3 linked regions of the Homo sapiens genome follow. The protein of the gene in region 3 interacts with the protein of the main gene of each other region in a biochemical or structural test. Each region holds a gene or a part of one and is shown on either strand. Other genes may lie near its edges. The genes, in order: DYNLT1, LRRK1 and BAG3.

Region 1 (3,036 bases), on a different chromosome or scaffold from region 3:
ACAATGCAAGCTCATTGTCGCTGCTCTTGCTAAGCTTATCATTATGATATTGCCATTGTATGATTTTCTGAGTTTTTCATTGTCAGCTCCCCTTTCACATGGATGCCAGTGTGCTTGCATCTCAGCAACTTTATTCTCTACCCCTAACTTGCTGTGCTGGAAACCAGGAACCTGAGTTTCTATGACAGTTATGACCTAAAGTGAAAATAACAACATTCAGTGAGGGCCAAGGTCTGTCCTCAGACAGGCAGAGCAAACCAGCAGTCCAGGGATCTGAGCTGTGCATGGTGGTGATGGACTGGGATCTGATGCCTGGGGCTTAGATCTGGCGACCTTGCTTTTGAGGACCTAAAACCTCCCTAGGTCACTCTGATTTCTACCCACTGACCTGCTGATCATCTCCCTGAGACTCTTGAGTAGTCACGTTACACATAGGGCTGGCTTACTTCTTGTCCTCGGCCACTGTGCTCCCTCCCAGCTCAGAGGCTACAAGAGGGCTGGGGGGCCAGAAGTCCCGGTTTAAGAGAACAGCAGTATTACTAGACCTGGGCATTGTCAAAGGGTAGGGGGGGCTTTGTTCAAGCTAAACCTCTCCCGTCAAAGGGTGGGGGAGGCTTTGTTGAAGGTAAACCTCTCCCTCCGCCAGCTCTCCCTCCGCACATACTTTGAAATTCAGTTTTTCAAGGAGGAGGGAACCCTCCACCAATTTTGGACCTGCGCAAATTGACTACTACCCAATATTTAGGGTCACTTGAGTACAGAATTACCTATTGCGGCGGCAAAAAAGCTGTTGAGGCCAGTGACACAAGTTCAAGTAACACTGCAATGTCACCTCATGTTTCCATGTGGATTGGAAATGTGTTTGTTTTGTTTTGTTTTTTTAAGACAGAGTCTTGCTCTGTCGCCCAGACTGGATTGCAGTGGCGTGATCTTGGCTTACTGCACCCTCCATCTCCCGGGTTCAAGCGATTCTCCTGCCTCAGCCTCCCAAGGAGCTGGGACTACAGGCATGCGCCACCAAGCCTGGCTTATTTTTGTATTTTTAGTAGAGACGGGGTTTCACCATGTTGGACAGGATGGTCTCGATCTCTTGACCTCATGATCCGCCCACCTCGGCCTCCCAATGTGCTGGGATGACAGGTGTGAGCCATCGCGCCCAGCATGGAAATGTGTACTTTCAATTGCACTTGCTAATTGAAAGCTGGTAACCAAGTCAAAGATAAGGCAGAAAACAACTGCGGCAGAACTAGACTTCCCAACAAGCCCCCTCCACTGTTCCCAGTTCTGGTGTAATCCACCCACCTTCCTGCCCCCTGCTGTGTTCCACGTGAAACTGTGTATTTAGAAAAACCATGAAAACCAAACGTACAGATCCTGCAAAGCAACCAGAAAGTCACTCCTGATGCTGAACAATGTAAATGGTCAAACAAAATCATTTTGCCTTTGGATACTGATCACAAACATAGGTTGCGGTTTTTTATCAAACACTAGTCAATAATTTACATTAAATTCTAAATTACATCTGAAACCCCAAACAGTATCATTAAATTCAGATCATCTAATAGTTTTCTTTTAGCCAATGGCTTTAGTATCTGTGCCCCATTTTACCCAGGGAAGGCAGGGAAGCTGATGAGGAAAACTCTTTCTGGCTTCATTCCTACCCTAGGTAGGAATGAGCCCCTAGCTCTCAGCACCGCTCCAGCCACACCCACCTCCTTTCACTCCCTCACACACCATGCACTGCCCCCACTTCCCAGTCTCAGGGGGCCTTGTCCCCTCTTTTTACTGCATTACCCCTACTTCTCATTCTGCAGATTTCAGCTCGAAATGGTCCCTGAACTCCCTGGGTGGGTCACATTCCCAGTTCAGTGCTCTCACAGCACCACCACTAGTGGCACTTACCACACAGCAAATGCAGGCTGACACCTTCCAGCAGGACTGTTTGATGTGTCTGCCCTGCCTGCCCCTCAGCTGTAAACTCCAGAAGGGTCTATGCCCTGCACGCTCCCTCAGTGTGTACTTTCTGAATGAGTAACAAACATCCCTTCTGTCTCTCTTCCTCTTCATGATCAACAACACAATAAAGTGTGAAATTTAGGAATGTAAGAAAAGTAAGCAAATAGGCCCCAAACTGGATCACTAGGTCCAGAATAACTGGAAATTGATTGTTCAATTTTCTTATACTCACTCTTTCTTCATTCAACCCTGGAGACATTTATTTGTATACCAGGATTCTTTTATGCTTAAAAGATTATAGAATCAAATCTTGGTGATATGCAGTAATAATGCTATGTACATAAAACTCCTTATCTGATTTAAAATATGTAATTTACATAATATAGAAGCAACTCTTATCTAGCTATTTACTGAAGTAAAAACTGTTATTTGAAACACCAAAACACACAGACTCAGTCGAAACAATTCCAAGATAGTATTTAAAACACATTATTTTCTCTAATATAAGCCATTAAACATTTAAGAAGTGAGCATTTCTCCTCTTACCTCTTTTACAATGTTGCTCACTTCATCAACAACAAAAGCAGTCTGTAAGGAAGAACATTCAGTTAAGTTTGATTTATTTAAAAGATATTTCCACTACATTGATAAATGCAAATGTAGGTAATGAACATAATGTAGAAATGAAGACCTTAGAAATAATCTAACTAGACTGTTCAGCTTTACCAAGGATGGCATTACAGTCTTCAGAAACCAGAAGACTAGAATACATGCACATAATTTAAAGGTATTGTTTTATTTTTATTTATTTATTTTTGAGACGGAGTGTCGCTCTGTAGCCCAGGCTGGAATGCAGTGGCGCAATCTCAGCTCACTGCAATCTCTGCCTCCCAGGTTCAAGTGATTCTCCTGCCTCAGCCTCCCAAGTAGCTGGGATTACAGGTGCCCTCCACCACACCCGGCTAATTTTCGTATTTTTAGTAGAGATGGGGTTTCATCATGTTGGCCAGGCTGGTCTCGAACTCCTGACCTCAGGTGATCCTCCCGCCTCAGCCTCCCAAAATGCTGGGATTACAGGCG
Region 2 (3,651 bases), on a different chromosome or scaffold from region 3:
TTTTGCTTGTAAAGTCAGAAAGGGAAAAAAATTTTAAAGGAAAGCCTATTTTTCAATTCTTTGGAAAAACTGTGTTTCCGGAATTCCCTGGAGACCCCGTCAGCTAATGTAACGTTCAATTTGGCAGCAGGGATGAGCAGCGTGGGAGGAGAGGGTGGGAAAGATGGGGGACATTTATCAAGATGGGGCCCAGCCCGGCCTCTGCAGAGCTCTGCCCAGGGCCAGCGAGGAGCCCAGAATACTTAAGCAGGGTCTTTTCTCTGTCTTTCAGCTTTTTGAAAACAAGAAGAATACTAAAAGCAGGAACAGGAAAGTCACCATTTACAGTTTTACAGGAAACCAGAGAAATCGCTGTAGCACATTCAGAGTGAAAAGAAATCAGACCATCTATTGGCAGGAAGGGCTCCTGGTCACTTTTGATGGGGGCTACCTCAGGTAGGAACACCTGGAAGCCCACCTGCCAGGTCAGCAGGTGCCACAGCAGCCACCGCGGGGCCACGTCAGCAGGATGCCTCATCCTCTTGGTGTCCAGAATTTTGCTCGTGAGAGCGGCTCGTCATGGCAGCTTGCTAGAAATGTGAGGCCCTCCCACGAGTGTCCCAGAGGCTCCGGTCTCCTCACCCCTGCTGAGCCCCCCTTGCAGGACGGGAAAGGCAAAGGCAGATGTGGCGGCCACAGCTGAGGACTTGAGGGACGTGGCGGCCATTGAGCTCAGGAGAGCCTCAGGCACTTCCCATGGTTATTCAGGTCACCATGGTGACCTTGCAGCCATCCTGCCCGTCCCCTTGTTCTGTGAGAAGCCAGGCTGGGGACAGGGGATGCTGAGACTCCTCAGCCCCCATCTCCACTGCCCATAACCAGACACGGAACTCAGCTCCCTGTGCCATTTATTCTTGGTTTTTTGAGAGCGGTAGACCTAAAGTCAGCCCAACAGGTTTAACGAATGATAAACACCCAAGATTATTTTAATGTTTACAATGAACTTTGCAAAATATTCTTCAGCTCTGTGAGAGGAGAAGAAGGGAAAAGGGGAGGTAACTTTACAGAGGGCTTGATTGGCACCTGCCTCTTCCGCATAGATGTTCTCACTTAAGGCCCAGGGTTGCTGCTGGACAGATGAGCATACTGAGGTTCAGGGAGGTCTGGGAACTTCCTTAGGGCCTCACCTGAGGGTCAGCTCCCAGGCTGAGCGTCCCTGACTGCAATCTTCCTCGTGCCTCCTTCACCAGGCCAGGTCCGGGGCAAGAACAAGGCAGGGCCACGCACACGTACATACAGGGAGGAGTCCCCCATCGGTCCTGCAGGGCACAGAGTCTCTCCAGGTCCCCGGGGGTTGGTTCCTGTCCCTGGGGGTAGGGATATCATCCCAGGGTCCCCCAGAGCCAGATCGCAATGGGCTCCTTTTGGTCTCTGGATTGCAGTGTGGAATCTTCCGACGTGAACTGGAAAAAGAAGAAAAGCGGAGGAATGAAAATTGTTTGCCAATCAGAAGTGAGGGACTTCTCAGCCATGGCTTTCATCACGGACCACGTCAATTCCTTGATTGATCAGTGGTTTCCCGGTAAGAGGAGATGCTAGAAGCAAGCCCTCATTCATGCTAATATTTCTTATGAATCAGGGTGGGGCTGCTGCTTTCGGGGTGGACAAAAATCCCACTGGGATTCAGCCCAAGAAAACTAGGGGGTCTTAACAGCACTTTGGTGGGAGTCCTGGCCCCCGAGAAGTCCAGCTCTGTCACTGGGGGGAGTCCCACGGGGAGGACTGGGCTCGGACACCACTGGGAATGTGCAGGGAAGCGGCCTGCCAGCTGCCCACAGGCGTGGCAAGAAAGATGACACTGGTACCACGAGTGGTCCACGGAGATGCTCAGTGTGAGCTCACACGTGTCTTGTTTTCATAGTGAGGACTGTGTGGCTGAAATTGCAGGGGAGCCGGCAGATGGAAATTTATCCCCTGCGCAGGGGCAGGGATGGAGGGGAGCCGTGGCAGCCAAGGGGCCTTGCTCTCCTCCCCTGCCACCCCACCCATCCCGGCGGTGATCAAACCACTAACACCGCCCTTCTCAGACCCTTTGGATCTGTTTCTTCATTGATAGTTCACCCAAAAAAAGTACTCTTTGAGTGAAGTTCCTGAGGCCTCCTGTTTGTTTTGCTCCTGGGGTGGAGACGACTCCCAGAGCAGCCTGCCAGGGGGAGGCCATCTGGGGTTTAATGGGGCAAGCAGCTGTGGGAGGGGCTGCCCTGAGAGCTTCAGCCCTGAACGCTGGAGGCCAAGCAGCTGTGGGACAGGCTGCCCGAGAGCCTCAGCCCCTGAACGCTGGAGGCCAAGCAGCTGTGGGAGAGCGGGTTTGGAATTCCAGTGCCACCCCTGCAAGCCTCGGCTGGTCCCCCGGCCTCCTGGGCCGGCCTCACCTGCATGCAATGCCTGCATCCCAGACAGCATCAGGGAAGGTGGCTAAGAGGCAGTGGCAGAATGCACTCAGGATACACATTCCAGATCCCAGGGTCTGGTCTCTGTCAGGGTTGGGGTCCTTCACACTGTTGGCAGGAAGGGTGACCTACAAGGAAAAAAGGCTTAGAAAGGAGCCCTCGGAGAAGTCAGCTGGGTGTGCGTGTCATGGTGATTTGGGAGGCACTTGGCTGTCTAAGGGGGCCCTTAGGCCCATGTGAACCCTTCTGGGCACTTTGCAGCTCCCCACCAGCCAGTGTTCCCCACACAGCAGGTGCTGGGCAGTTTGACAGGTGGGTCCCTTAGACAGTCACCTGAGATGGAAAGGGCTCTGGTGAGCACCTGAGACAGATCGCCTGGAGCCAGCATCCCCAGCCAGGGGCCCCTCCCAACGGGATGCCTTACACATGGACCTGCAGATATCAGATGTGCCTGGAAAGTTCTAGGCATCCACCTCCTACCTTGCATGAAGCAGGCAGTTGGCCGGCCCTGAGGGCACCTCCACAGGGCATCTTGGAGGGTGTTTCTCTGCACCTCCTCTCAGAGGCGTGGGGGAATCCCGTGTCCGGTGACTGAGTTTCGTCTATGATAATTTGCACTCATTTCTGCCCCTGCATTGCCCTTCATGGACATTGTAAACCTGATGTTTCTAATTGTAAGAAGGGTGCCTTCCCCACTGCCGTGATGGTTGGAGGATAGCTCACACCTAGTCTGCGATGACCTGTTAGGGCCCAGTCATGCAGGAGGGATCCCCCCACTCCTCTCAGGCCCCCCAGCCAGCCTGCTCAGTGTCCCGACCACTGGACAGTTCTCGGAAGCATCCTGAACCCTCCCTGGACACATCTTTCAGGACAAACAATTGCGCTCTCCAAAAAGGCACCCGAATGTGGCAGTGGGTTTCAGCCTGTCTCTTGGGTACAGGCCAGGACAGGCAGCTCCCCTGCTGCGAAGGCCTCAGGGCCTGGGGTGCAGAGTGCTGCTCGGGGGGCCCTCCTGCACCACCTTCTTGTGAAGCTGTCTCCTGCTCTGTCCTTATTTAGCCCTGACAGCCACAGAGAGCGACGGGACGCCACTCATGGAGCAGTACGTGCCCTGCCCGGTCTGCGAGACAGCCTGGGCCCAGCACACGGACCCCAGTGAGAAATCAGAGGATGTGCAGTACTTCGACATGGAAGACTGTGTCCTGACGGCCATCGAGCGGGA
Region 3 (3,651 bases):
TGGCGGCGCATGCCTGTAGTGCCAGCTACTCAGGAGGCTGAGGCAGGGGAATTGCTTGAACCTAGGAGGCAGAGGTTGCAGTGATTTGAGATCACACCACTGCACTCCAGTCTGGGCAACAGAGAGAGACTCCACCTCAAACAAAGCAAAACAAAACAAAACAAAACAAAACACACACACACACAACAAAGACTGAAGGCTTTGGAATCAAGGGGCCTATGTTCAAATTCCTAGTAATTCAATCATTTTCTAAGCTTCATTTGAAATATAGGAAGAGTGCCCCTCCCTCACTGGGCTGCTCTGAAGATGAGGTCAGTCACCTGGGCATGTGCCTCAGCCCCAGGCCAGCACACAGGAAGCGCTCATACAAGGGATGTGTTGTCCCCACTACCCTTTCTCTGCCAATCTACAGAGAACTCGGCTGAGCAACTGGGAGCTGCCAGCATCCCGTGTGGCCCAAGGCAGGTCAAGCACCTTTCCCTGCTGGGCCACCTTCTATTCACCTCGAAATTGAGAGCATTTCCTCTTCTAAGTGCTTTGTTAGCCTAAATTTGTGAAGATGTCTCGCATTTATGTGTCACTTTGATTTCTTGCAGCAAAACCATTATAAATATAGGCATTACTTATTTTTTTATTTTTGAGACAGTCTCGCTCTATCACCTAGGCTGGAGTGCAGTGGTGCGATCTCGGCTCACTGCAACCTCTGCCTCCTGGGTTTAAGCAATTCTCCTGCCTCAGCCTCCTGAGTAGCTGGGATTACAGGAATGTGCCACCATGCCCGGCTAATTTTTGTATTTTTTGTAGAGACGGGGTTTCACCGTGTTAGCCAGGCTGGTCTTGAATTCCTGGCCTCAAGTGATCCACCTGCCTCAGCCAGGTACTACCTCTCTAAGAAAAGAAAAAAGGTATCCCACATTAACTGTAACTTTCACTCTCAAGCAGGTGTGAAGCTGAACAGATTCAGACGGAGCTGAGAGGCAAGCATGACTCAGGGTGCAGATAGGACACGGGAGTTTGTGCCCAGGAACAACGCTGGCACACACCACAGGATGATGTGCAGACAGGAAAATGAGAGGACTTACTGCTTAGGAATCCTACTAGGAATGCCTCAAATCTCAGCTAAGAACCAGATTAAGAACTATTTTTTAGCTATTAATGCACAGAATCCATTGACATATCCCTGAGATGTTTGGCTTCAGGATTAAAATGCTGTCTTAAAGCAGCTGCCTTCCTGACTCCTTATTTCTTTTGAAACTGTGGTGCACGGTGAGGGCAGGCATGGGGTCTCATTTTCCTGTCAACATAGCTCCACAAGCGGTTAAGATTTATCCATAAGCATTGAACTGAACAAAATAATGCACAGCTATCTCTGTGCTTCTGAATAGAAAGCCCAGTGTGAATAAGGAGCATGGAAATTAGGCGCCAGAAGGCAGGCCAGGCTTCCGGTCCCAGCTCTGCTCCCTCCACCTGTGTGCATCTGGAGCAGGCAGGCTGCAGTGTGCCCTTCCGAGCCGTTCCTTAGCTACAAAAAGAAGCCACATGATTCCTGCCCTGCCCCACTGAAGAACAGCCCTATGAGATGCTGGGGGATGATGTGGGGCCATCACCCTGTCTTTGCTGGGTGACCTCTGATGCTGCAGGCTAGACCCAGATGCCCTGCATGTGAACAGGTGCCTGGCCCAGGGCACTGTCCTGAGGGGATGGGCCCGGCCTGGGAAGCACAGCGGCTTGCTCCCCAGCAGGCTGGTGAGCCTGGCCTCTCCTTACCTCAGGTCCGTGGGAGGCTGGGGGCTGGGCTGCCGCCGCCGCTGCCACCTGTCCACACTGTTTATCTGGCTGAGTGGTTTCTGGCATGCCCCGCAGAGGTGACTGGGACCTCTGAGGAGCCGCTGCTGCCGCCTCAGTTCGGAATCGCTGCATCCCAGGCTGGGGATAGACATGGAAAGGGTGCACCTGCCGGTTCTCAGCGCCTTCATGGAGCACAGGAATGGGAATGTAGCCTGGTCGGAGCTGGGGGTACACAGGGTGGCCTTCCCTAGCAGGCGGCAGCCTAGAGCCCTCCCGGGAAGGGCCATTGGCAGAGGATGGAGTCTCCTGAAATAAAAAGTGGAGAAACACAGGCTGGTTAGAAACTGGGAAGTGAACCCTCCTGGCAGAGGAAACACTGTGGCGCTTGGCATTGTGATCTTCCCGAGTGACTTGGGCCTCAAAGCGTCAGCCAGCTCCCAGCCCCTGTACCCTCCAAACCCCCCACCCCATAGAGGTTGCTATTTGGCCAACAGTTTAGGAATTAGGGGCATCAGGAGAAAGCCAAAAGTATCTGTTAAGCAAAGGAAAGGTCCCAATTCTCCAAACTGGTAAGACAGGTTTCTTTTCTGGGTGACTGAGGGAAGCGGTGAGTGTAGGAGAGCTGCCCATGCCCGCATTTTCAGAGACCCGGATCAGAAGATGAGCTCCAGGAGCAGGGGTCAGCTCCAACCTCTACATTACAGCAAGCGTCTCTGTTTCCAAAAAGGCCCTCACATTTCCCAGCAATATAGAGCTTGTACTGGGCCCAAACACAGGACACAGTTTGGGAATCTTTACAGAGAAGTGGGCTGGGGAGCGAGGGCTGCCTCCTCAGGAGTATTGTTAGAACAATTTGCAGGAAGGGGAAGGACAGGGATGCAGAGGCAGCATAGGGAGAGAGGGGCACCCAGGGTTAACTGTGTCGCCTAACGATGCCAACTGACAAAGATTCTCTGCTTGACCAAATCTTAGGCTTCCGAAGCATCTCCTAGGCCCATCTGTGCACTTCCTTGTAAAGTCAAGTTTTAGCAAAAGACACTGCTAAGTCAGTTTAGCCAGAAACCCCCTCCCCAGCCTCACTATCTGATCAGCTTCCACAGCCTCCAGGTGCTGTCTAATCACCCTGGCCTGTCTTCGGCAAGAATCCTGTTTGGTCAGCATAGCCAGAAACACCCTTAGCCCTGATGTTTCCTCTTCTAATTTTCCATCCACACTGCTCCTTGACTATAAATTCCCAATCGCCCGTGTTGTATTTGAAGTTGTGCCCAGTCTCTACCCATGACTGCACGACCCCACTGCCGTGGTCCCTGTGCCTATCTTGATGGCCCCGAATAAATCTTCCTGACTGTGCTTTAACAAGTATCACTGAAGAACTTTTTCTTCAACGCAACAGAGCCTGCTTGGGCAAGGAGCAGTTGGGGTCCTTCTCTTATGTCCTCTCTTGAAGTTCTCCCTTCAGTGGCCTGGCTATTTTGGGACCCTTGAGAAGGCCAAGTTCCAGATGTACCACAGGAAAGATCTTATTTCAGACAACAAGGCTGGCCAGTCACTCACTGGGCAATGCCATCTCTCAGCAAGCTGGGCTGCGCAACAGAAGTCCTAACAGTCCCCGAGCACCGAGGGTCCTTTCCCAGGAGGGGAGCTACTGATAAGTGTCATTTGCATATATCTGTGTAAGGCAACTCTTAAGAAGGGGAGTGATCTTTCCTGACGAAGGCAGCTGTCTGCACGGCGAACAAACGCCAAAGGCTAACAATCTATGAGCTTGCAGGGGACAATCTCTACTGCTGCGGAATCAATCAAAAGTAAGGACAGATACTGAGGGCTGCTCTGCACTTTGAGAGAACAGACCATTAATTCTGT

Evidence for each region.
Region 1: the proteins of BAG3 (region 3) and DYNLT1 form a complex in vitro, tested with the Homo sapiens proteins (one study listed by BioGRID).
Region 2: the proteins of BAG3 (region 3) and LRRK1 form a complex in vitro, tested with the Homo sapiens proteins (2 studies listed by BioGRID and IntAct, with this or other methods).

The regions. Positions count from the first base shown.
Region 1 is NC_000006.12:158,638,817-158,641,852, forward strand, and holds part of DYNLT1 (dynein light chain Tctex-type 1), read right to left. Parts: intron 2,545-3,036; coding exon 2,503-2,544; intron 1-2,502. UniProt on the Homo sapiens protein: Acts as one of several non-catalytic accessory components of the cytoplasmic dynein 1 complex that are thought to be involved in linking dynein to cargos and to adapter proteins that regulate dynein function.
Region 2 is NC_000015.10:101,048,223-101,051,873, forward strand, and holds part of LRRK1 (leucine-rich repeat serine/threonine-protein kinase 1), read left to right. Parts: intron 1-271; coding exon 272-435; intron 436-870; exon of another isoform or gene 871-1,421; coding exon 1,422-1,561; intron 1,562-2,411; exon of another isoform or gene 2,412-3,488; coding exon 3,489-3,651.
Region 3 is NC_000010.11:119,668,294-119,671,944, reverse strand, and holds part of BAG3 (BAG family molecular chaperone regulator 3), read right to left. Parts: intron 2,095-3,651; coding exon 1,768-2,094; intron 1-1,767. UniProt on the Homo sapiens protein: Co-chaperone and adapter protein that connects different classes of molecular chaperones including heat shock proteins 70 (HSP70s), e.g. HSPA1A/HSP70 or HSPA8/HSC70, and small heat shock proteins (sHSPs), e.g. HSPB8.